Linked DNA regions of Homo sapiens: region 1 is linked to region 2. The links come from fine-mapping of genetic effects on gene expression. A gene starts in region 2. The other region holds a variant in brackets. All regions are shown on one strand. Distances are between the middles of the regions. Region 1 has its middle 20 kb from the start of ZBED5. Region 2 holds the start of EIF4G2 (eukaryotic translation initiation factor 4 gamma 2).

What was found. PIP is the estimated chance that this variant, and not a neighbour inherited with it, causes the effect. A credible set is the group of variants that fine-mapping cannot tell apart.
Region 1: its variant is the best candidate, but not a certain one, in a credible set for the expression of EIF4G2 in cerebellum (GTEx, PIP 0.51).

The regions. Positions count from the first base shown.
Region 1 is chr11:10,835,117-10,840,496 of GRCh38, forward strand. No RefSeq gene overlaps it. Among named protein-coding and RNA genes, the nearest start is that of ZBED5, 20 kb to the right of the region's middle. RefSeq lists a silencer at 3,886-4,180. The variant T/C (reference allele first, on the strand shown) is at 2,927.
Region 2 is chr11:10,805,994-10,811,373 of GRCh38, forward strand. EIF4G2 (eukaryotic translation initiation factor 4 gamma 2) reads right to left here and starts at 2,933. Exons shown (of 22, transcript NM_001418.4): 1 at 2,712-2,933; 2 at 1,262-1,388; 3 at 827-892; 4 at 1-54. The coding sequence starts at 1,302. It overlaps LOC101928053 (a long non-coding RNA gene), which reads left to right and starts at 3,304. Exons shown (of 3, transcript NR_120540.1): 1 at 3,304-3,373; 2 at 3,864-3,928. RefSeq lists enhancers at 1,706-1,785, 2,516-2,775, 3,286-3,335, 3,411-4,017 and a silencer at 3,056-3,105.

The sequences.
Region 1 (5,380 bases), 29 kb after region 2:
TGTAGCCTCCTCCCATACTCATTAGGGTTGACCTGTGTAACCTATAGAATATTGCAGACATGATGGTGTGTGACTTCTGAGGCTATAGATATCATAATAGGTATTGTCATTTCTGCCTTACATCTGGAGAAAGCCAGATGCCATATTGTAAAGACACTACAGAGAAGTTCAAATGGCATGGAACTGAGGCCTGCTACAAAGACCCAGCACAAACTTGCCAAGTATGTGAGTGAACCATATTGAAAGCAGATCCGCCAGCCCCAGTCAAGCCCCAAATGACATCTTGACACCAACGTTATGAGATAACCTGAGCCAGAATCACCCCCCTAAGCCAATTCTAGATTCCTGACCTAAAGAAACTGTGTGAGATAATGCTTGTTATTTTCAGTTGCTAAATTTTGGGTAATGTGTCACACAATACAGATAATAAAGGTCTCATCTTGCACAGGGATGGCAATTTTCCTCTTCTCTATCCTATCTCCTATAACTAACTCCAGATTCATATATTGAGTCAGATCCTCACATGCTGTAAGGCAGAGGTCCCCAGCCTGTTAGGATCAGGCTGCACAGCAGGAGGTGAGGGGCAGGTGAGTGAGTGAAGCTTCATCTGTATTTATAGCCATTCCCCATTGCTTGCATGACCGCCTGAACTCTGCCTTCTGTCAGAACAGCAGCAGCATTAGATTCTCATAGGAGCACAAACCCTATTGTGGACTGCACATGTGAGGGATCTAGGTTGCATGCTCCTTATGAGAATCTAATGCCTGATGATCTTCACTGTCTCCCATTACTCCCAGATGAGACCATCTAGTTGCAAGAAAACAAGCTCAGGGCTTCCACTGATTCTACATTATGGTGAGTTGCATAATTATTTCATTACATATTACAATGTAATAATAATATAAAGTGTACAAAAAATGTAATGAGCTTGAATCATCCTACCCCTACCCCTCCCCACCAATCCCCCATACTGGTCCATGGAAAAACTGTCTTCCATGAAACCAGTCCCTGGAAAATGTTGGGGACCGCTGCTCTAAAGGACCAACAATAAAGTAAGTTTGGGAAGAGAAAGATTACATGTCAGAAGAATGGTAAGATTTTGCTAAACTGCATTGGCAAAAAGCTGGAGAATATATGTAGAAATAGACTCTTGAAGATGCAAGATCAAGGAAAAAGGAACATAATTTTGGATTGGGCTGAATGTATTGATATGAGAACATTTGTCTAAGATTCTGGTACTAGTTCAGGTAGCTTTGAGTGTTCTAGTTATGCTCGGTTGATTAATTAAAAACTAGACTCAACTGGTGACTGAAACCAAATAGGATTGGGTTGGCAATAATTTTTTTTTTTTTTTTCTTGAGACAGTCTCACTTTGTCACCCAGGCTGGCGTGCAGGGGCTGGTCTCAGCTTACTGCAACCTCTGCCTCTTGGGTTTGAGTGATTCTCCTGCCTCGCCTCCCAAGCAGCTGGGATTATAGGCATGCACCACTAAACTCAGCTAATTTCTGTATTTTTAGTAGAGATGGGGTTTCTCCATGTTGGCCAGACTGGTCTCAAACTCCCAACCTCAGGTGATCTGCCCACCTCGACCTCCCAAAATGCTGGGATTACAGGCATGAGCCACTGCGCCTGGCATGCCCCAAAATTTTGCTTAACTTTTATTTTAGATCCAGGGGTACATGTGAGGTTTGTTATATAGGTACATTCATGTCACGGGTTTGTTGTGCAGATTATTTTGTCACCCAGGTACTAAGCCAATAGTTATTTTTTCTGCTCATCTCCCTCCTCCCACCTTCCATCCTCAAGTAGGCCCCAGTGTCTGTTGTTCCTCTGTGTGTCCATGTGTTCTCATCATTTAGCTCTCACCTGTAAGTGGGAACGTGCAGTATTTGGTTTTCTGTTCCTGCATGAGTTTACTAAGAATAATGGCCACCAGCTCCATCTACGTTCCTGCAAAAGACATGATCTCGTTCTTTTTCATGGCCACATAGTATTCCATGGTGTATATGTACCACATTTTCTTTATCCAGTCTGTCACTGATGGGCATTTAGGTTGATTCCGTGTCTTTGCTATTGTGAACAGTGTTGCAGTGAACATTTGTGTGTATGTATCTTTATGGTAGAATGATTTATATTCTTCTGGGTATCTACCCAGTAATGGGATTGCTGGGTTGAATAAATGTCTTGATATAATGCTGAAGATAAGCTCCAAAGGCTTAGGAAGAAAGAAGAAAGCAAACTCAAAGTGGGTTTTTTGTTTTTTACGACAGAGCCTTGCTCTGTTGCTCAGGCCGAAGTGCAGTGGCACAATCATAGCTCACTGCAACCTTGAACTCTTAGGCTCAAGCAATCCTCCTGCCTAGGCCTCCCCAAAGCTCTTGGATTACAGGTGTGAGCCACTGTGCCCAGCCTGAAATGGGTTGTTATTTGCATTGGATCATCAACCCCCGTGTCCCCCAAAGGACCTAGAGCACATTATCTTCACACCATAGCATAAATAAATAGACTGGTGAGTATAGTGCAAGTGCCCCTGAACATTACTATAATGGCTGTCCTCTGGGGATAAAGGTTGCATATGTTGGCACTGAAATGGCCTTCCCCCCTCCCCCTTTCTTGTTCTTTTTTCTTTTCTTTGAAATGGGCTTTCCACTTTCAGTGATGGTGAGGGATCCTGAGGTGGTAGAGGCCAGACAGGAGAACATAACTGCCATAGTAACATTATGCACAATTACCAAGAGTGGTAATTGAAAGGTTTGACCTACAGAGATCTTTGACGGTTGCTAATTGATCATAGTTTTTAATACTGAAACAGATGTGTAGCTCACTAAGGACTTAAAGATTTGTGCAAATGAACAAACTCTAGATTAGGAAAACACAGGCCTGACTACAGACACCACTAAAAGTCAGAGCCCACATCTATTTCTA[T/C]TCCTGGGAAGTTCAGAGACTCAGAATACAGAGTATACTATGTACCTTTGAGAAAGAACTGTGTGATTACATCAAAAGTATCTTTCTCTCAGCCTTCAATCAAAAGGACATATAGCTATTTGCTAGGGTAAAATTGTGCACAGGAGGAAATATCTTGACCTTTAAGGGATTATCAGACACAAGTGTTAATCCTTGGTGACCCAGAATACTATGCTCACAGACTCACTGGTCTTACTGTACATTCCATCATCCAGAAGCAGCTGGTCTTCAGAACTCTTGAACAGCTTTTTGAAGACTCAGTTCCAGCTGTTCCATTTTGTGACTCAGGTACTAAGCCAACAGTTATTTTTTCTGCTCATCTCCCTCCTTCCACCTTCCATCCTCAAGTAGGCACCAGTGTCTGTTGTTCCTCTCTGTGTGTCCATGTGTTCTCAACATTTAGCTCTCACCTGTAAGTGGGAACATGCAGTATCTGGTTTTGTTCCTGCATGAGTTTACTAAGAATAATGGCCACCAGCTCCATCCACGTTCCTGCAAAAGACATGATCTCGTTCTTTTTTATGGCCATTTAGTATTCCATGGTGTATATGTACCACATTTTCTTTACCCAGTCTGTCATTGATGGGCATTTAAGTTGATTCCATGTCTTTGCTATTGTGAACAGTGCTGCAATGAACATTTGTGTGTATGTGTCTTTTGTTTCCCAGCAGGGAAGGAATGCTTTGCAAAGTTAGGATGTCGCCCTATAGCAGAGATTAGCAAATTATAGTCTGAGGGCAAATATGCCCTAAATCCTATTTTTGGACAGATTTTAAGAATTTTTTTTTTACACTTTTTAAGGGTTGTAACAGTAACAACAAAAAAGAATACATGACAGATATCAATCATGTGTGGTCTTTAAAGCTTGGAATATTTATTATCTGGTCCTTTACAGAAAAAAGCATGCCAACTCCTGTGCTACAGCAATGTGCTGTGAACCAGCAACCAACATAAAGCGCGGTTTTTCCCTTATCTATATCTGCTGGGAAACCCAGGCTTGAGATAAACACTTCCCACTACGATACCCACTGATGCACTCAAAATGTTTTGCTTTCTATTTTCACAACTTTGAGCTTTGCCTATGTAGAACTCTTTATCTAAGGGAGACATGCTCTAACCCAGAAAATCCAAGAATGGTTCCTCTTAACTGGAAGTTTATTAACCAGCTGCAGATGCTGGCAGTATGAAGATGGAATAGATAATGAAGGAAGGATATTCTAGTTTACGAGACCAGTTGTAGAAATAAAGATGTAGTAGCTACCCATCTACTTTATTCTATTTTGTATGTATCTATATAGGTTAATCATTCCCATTGACTTGTTTTCTCTCCTCATTTATATAAGGTGTATTTGTAATTTAGCTAATGGTATTGTACTTATGTTTATTAATTTTGATAATTATGCTATAATTATATAATACGTTGATATTAGGGGAAGCTATGTGAAGGTATTGGTACTATTTTTGCAACTTTTCTGTAAGTGTAACTTTATTTATTTATTTTTGAGATGGAGTTTTGCTCTGTCTCCCAGGCTGGAGTGCAATGGTGTGATCTCGGCTCACTGCAACCTCTGCCTCCCGGGTTCAAGTGATTCTCCTGCCTCAGCCTCTTGAGTAGCCCGCCACCACACCTGGCTAATTTTTGTATTTTTAGTAGAGATGGGGTTTTGCCATGTTGGCCAGATTGGTCTCAAACTCCTGACCTCAGGTGATCTGCCCGCCTCAGCCTCCCAAAGTGCTAAGATTACAGGCATGAGTCACCACACCCAGCCAGTCTAACTTTATTTCAAAATAAAAAGTTTACGCTGGGCATGGTAGCTCACACCTATAATCCTGGCACTTTGGGAGGCCAAGGTGGGAGGGCTGCTTGAAGCCAGGAGTTCAAGACTGACCAGTCTTGAACACAGTGAGACCCCATCATAGTGAGACCCCATCTCTATTAAATATATATATATATATATATATATAAAGTTTAAAAATGAGCACAATTATGCAAACATAAATATATGATTTAGAAACACATGAAGTGATGAAATTTTTGATGCAATGTGGAATAAAAAATAAGATGCACTAAAATAATGTTTGCTCCTTTTTTAGATGCAAATGACATTAAATAAATCTTATAAATTACACTAAAGTAATGCCAGGAATTTTTCTTTATAACATTTTAAAAATACATATATATTTAAAAATAGAGACAGGGTCTCACTGTGTTGCCCAAGCTAGTCTTAAACTCCTGGGCTCAAGCGATCCTGCTGCCTCAGCTTCCCAAAGTGCTGGGATTACAGGTGTAAACCGCTGCACCCAGACATGGACTTTTCTTCTATCACTTCTTTAATATTTCCTCCGTAAAATTATTTCATGTGTCTCTCTTTGGAACTATGAGTTACTGGAATCCCTGCATTTATTTTACATGTC
Region 2 (5,380 bases):
CGTGCAGGAATCCATTTCTGAGCGTTTTGCCCTGGGGTTTTCCCCAGGAACTCGCTGATTAATAAAAATCAGCAAAAACACTTATTGTCACACACCAAATGTTAAACATCATAAATTCTCTTACATAGAAAAAAGTAATTTAGGCTTTCTCGACTTCCCCTCCAAGAAAGCCAACTCTGGAAATTAGTGCTTCTGGAACAGTAGTGTGCATCAGAATCACCTGAAGGGCTTGTTAATACAGATTGCTGGGCCCACCCAGTTTCTGCTTTCACTGGTTTGGGGTGGGGCCTAAGAATTTGCATGTCTAGTAAATATTCCCAGTATCAACGCTGTGGAACCACATTTTGAAAATTAACATTTTTTTTAAGAGATGGGGTCTTGCTGTCTTGCCCAGGCTGATCTCAAACTCTTGGGTTCAAGCGACCCTCCCACCTTTGCCTCCCAAAGTTGTTGTTGGGATTACAGGTGTGAGCCACTGTACCGGCTGCCAATAAACACTTTCTAATGTTTTATTGACCATGTTGAGTGCGTACTACTTTACTAATAACAATCAGTAGGAATAATAGCTACTGATTTCAGAAAAACACATTAGTAAAAATAACCCAAAGAATAAGGAAAAAAATAACAGCTTGAGAGTCTCAACTCACTTAGAAAATTTGGCTAAGGAATAATCAGGAACTGATATTCTGTATTTAGGATACCCAACAGAAACCACGCCCCTTAAGATTAGGAGTCTTGATGGCTATTGCCTTAATTATACCGTCACATGGGAAAGACTTTTAATCTGTTAAATAAAGCTCACTGTTTTTTTACATGTTTACCACACCTGTTGCCAGCAGTCTTGGGATAGTGCTGAGGTGCACCCCTACTTCCTCCTCCGCCCGAAGAAGCACTATTTAAAAGAAAAAAATTGTTTACTGTATCCCAACTATGTCTCACTCAAAAAGAATAAGCATCTATTTTGTGTTTTGCTTTGCTTGTAGAGATGGGGGTCTCGCTATTTTGCCCAGACTGGAGCCAGGCCTGTATTTTAGTGCTTGTATATTATGCTACAAATGAAGACTGAACTCGGACCCAAAGGAAAGGCAAATAATTGATTTTATTTATTCTTCAGATGGCAGTTCTTAGAAGGCTGTCAATGAAAACTTAAGAACTTTTCAAATGAAAATTGCAGCCCATTAAGTCGGACTTATTTGCTGTGTTAACTACTTTTTGAGACTGGCCTTTTCAAAAGGATTCCCCAAAATAAATCTACAAGTACCTGAAACGAGAAGCACCCCCTTCTGCAATCGCACTCTCCACTTTGGCGGCTTGACAACGAAGAATCTTCAAAAGAATAATATTAATAGATGGGGTGGGGAGGGGAGGGGACAGGAGAAATGAAATACCTGGAACGAGAAAGAGCACCAAAATTAGACACTGCTAACATACAGATCTATAAGCCTTCATTCAATTACAACGTATTTCAGATCCTGGCACTGTCACTGCATTGCAGATCTGTAAGACTAACCTAAAATGTACTCAAAACACTGACAATTACATTTTGTTTAGCCACCTGGAAATTCCCCGGTGTTCAAGGATGCAAAGAGACTTCGTAGAACACAAGAGCATTTTAAACGGCTCAGAACGAATCTTTTGAAAAAGCCACATTCTACTATCTTTAAAACTGAGCACTGAGATCAATAGAAAAGTCTAACTACAGACACGAGCAACATCACGTGGAAAATGTCTGCCCTAGGAATTTTTACTGCCTTGACGAGGCCAGCGACTAGATGAGGTCTCTCCGAAAGCTCTTCAGCAGTTTTCCCCTGTCCACCCTTTCGCCTCCTCCCCGTGGAGAGCTCGTGGAAAGACGCGCGAGAGGGGGCCGGGTGTACAGGACTAGCACTTGCAGGCGGAAGACCAGGGCCACAACATGGCAGCAGGAACCTCCGCCCCGTTTTTCCCTTCCTGGGAACAAAAGAGCGGAGCATTCCTCCCACCCAGGCGCAAGTTAGGGAAGTGCTTCCGACAACCTCCCCGCGAGGCCCGGGTCGCTCGACGGGGAGGAGCAGCTGAGGCCACCCCCGCCAGCCCGGCGCCCAGCTCTTTGTTCTCCAAGCAGGAAGGCGGCCTCCTGCCCACCCGCCGCCTCCAAGCGGGCCCCCTCCTGCACCATAAATCCCCCCGGGACTGACAACCGCCTCGCCACGGCCTCCTCTGCTGACAAAAGGGGCAGAAATCATCACTCTCTCTTTCCTCCCCGACGAAGGGCAGCCCCTGCCGACTCCAGGTCCTACACACCTCCCCGCCGGGAGGCCAGGCTCCGGGACGCCTGCGGTTCCCTGGTCCCGCGCCAACGGCCTGGCCTTCCCTGCCGGCCCGCGTGCCTCCCGCCACGGCGCTAGCGGTCCGAGCCACGCTCCCTCGCCGTCCGAGCACAGCCGTGCCTCGGTCCGCCACGGCCTCGTCCCTGCAGGCGTCGGCCATCCGGCCATGACCGCACGGCGGCCTGGCCAACACTGACGTTTTCCTTCTACTCCGTCAGCAACAGGAAGAGAGAACAAAAGCCAAGACTTTCCAGGTATCTGAAGCGCAGAGGAAATGCTAAAAAAGGGTCGCCCCACCCGGCTCCGCCTGCGGCCGCCATTTTGTACCACTCGAGAAGAAGCGACCAGGGACGGCGGCCATTTTAGAGCGCTCCACTCGGCGGCGGCAGCGGCTCAACTCACCTTCACCGAGAACTCAGCAGCTGCCACCGCAGCTGCCTCCTCAGGATCCGGTCGTCGGGGATAGGGAAGGGAGGGGAAAGGGGAACGGAAAACAAAAAAAAGGGGGAGGGAAGGGGGAGGAAGGAGTCGGGGACGGCCTCAAACTCAGCTCAGAGGAGTCGCTGCTGCAGCCGCCACTCGGTACCCGCTGCCACCTCCATAGAGCTCCGACTCACTGCTGGCGCTAAGGCGTGTCTGAAGCCGAACTTATCACTCTTGGGGCAGCCGAACCCACCAGAGTCTCCCCGAATGGCTCCTTCGCCGCCCAATCAGCGGCCCGGTTGCCGTCTGCCACCAATCCGCGCAGGGCAGCGAGGAGGAGCCACAGGGCTGAGCTCGGTTGCGGCGCAGCCCCGCCGCAGTGCGCAAAGCCATATTCGCGAAGTCTCTGAGGCTGAGCCAGTGGCGTAAGGGGCGCCGAGCGCTGTCGAGATGAGGGTTGCGTGCGTAAAGCCGGAGAGCCCTTTTGAGTCTGCGTTGGCGTGGCTGCTGCTTCTTGCTCCAGTCCCTTTGTTCACTGAGTCCATATGCCATGCTCCAGTTGTATCATCCCCTTTTCCCTCGACCTCGTTTTCTCACCGGGAATATGGGAAGAAAACGCACCCTTACCTCCCCCGAACCCTGTGCGTGGCGAGTGAGCATTGCTTTTCTTGGCGCCCCTTGGAGCTGTGGCTGCCCTCGCGTGCCTGGCCTCTCCCGGGGCTGAGCCCTTCGGGTTGAGGCCTGGAGCCCCCGGGCGCAGCGCCGGGACACTACCCGGCTCCAGGTCCTCGGCTTCGGCAGCCTTAGGGAACCCAGAAAGTAGTGGGGAGGAGGCGAGACGTGCGCCCGGATGCCAAAGGGGAGCTTCATTCAGCTCCTTATTGGCCCACCCCCTGCAGAGTGAATGAGAAAGTGATGAAAGGAAGGGGTTGATTTTCTTCGAACCGCACAGAAGAAGCTGCTTTTCCCATAGGAATGTCCGGCTGGCGGTCACCGAGGAAAACACCCTGTGTGTCAGACTTCCGCGGGTGTTTGGAGGATTTCGAATTGCTAGCTCCTGTTTTTTTTTGTTTTTTGTTTGTTTAAGTGCACGTTAAACATTGTCAGTTGTGTATTTTCATTTTATTTAAGGTTCACCATAAGAAATAGGATTAAGCTTTTCAAAGCCGGCAAGTTGAACTATTTATACTTACCAGGTAATGTATTGATGAGTACCTTATTCCATCGTTTGCGACATTGTAGCTATACTAAAATGGAGTCATACTTCCATAAACTTAAACAACAAAAATGTCCCCATCTCCATTTTAACATGTAGTACTTTTACAGTGTATAGTCAAAGGCAAGAATGTGTGTGTTTTAACATGAATGACTTTTAAAGTGTTCAGTAAGAGGCAGGATTTTCAAAGACCCAAACTTAACCTTTGATGTGTCAAAACAGCTCTTGGTATTAGAGCACCTGGTCCTTAATACAATTTTCCGGAAAATTGCAGTTTTTCCTACGACATTTAAATGTAATAGAAGGCTGTGGTGTGGCTCTGAAGGTTTTTAACACAATTCCAACATCTGTAGATCTTTGCTATAGAATAGTCACCATTCCCTACTTTACTGTTACTACACTTATTGCTATTACATCAATTTTACTTGAACTTTAAAACTTGGAAGAGATATTCTAAAAAAAAAAAAAAACTATTTTGGGGTGGTGGTGGTGGTGCAAGTTTTGTTTTAAATACAAGAGGTTTCACTTTGTATTTCTTTGGACCCTTCTAGCTTCATGATAACACGAGAATAATGTTTCTTTATAATTTCTGTAGGGCTTTAAGGTTTGGAAAAATGCATTAGTATATGTGATATTTTTACATAACTGGTTTACATTCCATTTATCTGATAATGAACGAATACATTAGTTTACTAAGAAGAGTAGTATTCAAAAACTATTGTCTAGACTTCAAAGAGAATATTCACCTAGCCGTAAAAGTCGGATGTTCTTATAATTAAGACACTTAAAATTCAGTAATTAAAAATTTAAAAAAGGTTTTACTTAATATTTTATTTAATCTTTGCTAATTGGGAACCCTTTTGGTATGGGCTTTGCAGATATGAGTTTATGTGAGAAATTGACCTGGAAGGGAATAACCTAAGGTAGAAAAAGTAAAAATATTGATAAAACAATCTTTCAATTACCTTTCTCTCACTTAAATAGAAAGATTTGAAGTTGAAATCGTACCTGCAAAGCCCATTGCAGAAGGGTTCACAATTAGCAAAGATTAAATAAAAACATTAAGTAAAACCTTTAGAAAAAAAAATTTTTTTTTGAGACAGAGTCTCACTTTGTCACTCAGGCTGGAGTGTAGTGGTGTGATCTCTGCACACTGCAGCCTCCACCTCCTGGGTTCAAGCAGTTCTCGTGCCTCAGCCTCCTGAGTAGCTGGGATTACAAGCATGTGCCACCACGCCCAGCTAATTTTTGTATTTCTACTTGAGATGGGGTTTCACCATGTTGCCCAGACTGGTCTCAAACTCCTGACCTCAAGTGATCCACCCGTCTGGGCCTCCCAAAATACTGGGATTACAGGTGTGAGCCACTGTGCCCAGTGTAAAAAATTTTTAATTATTGAATTTTAAGTGTCTTAATTATAAGAACATCTAGC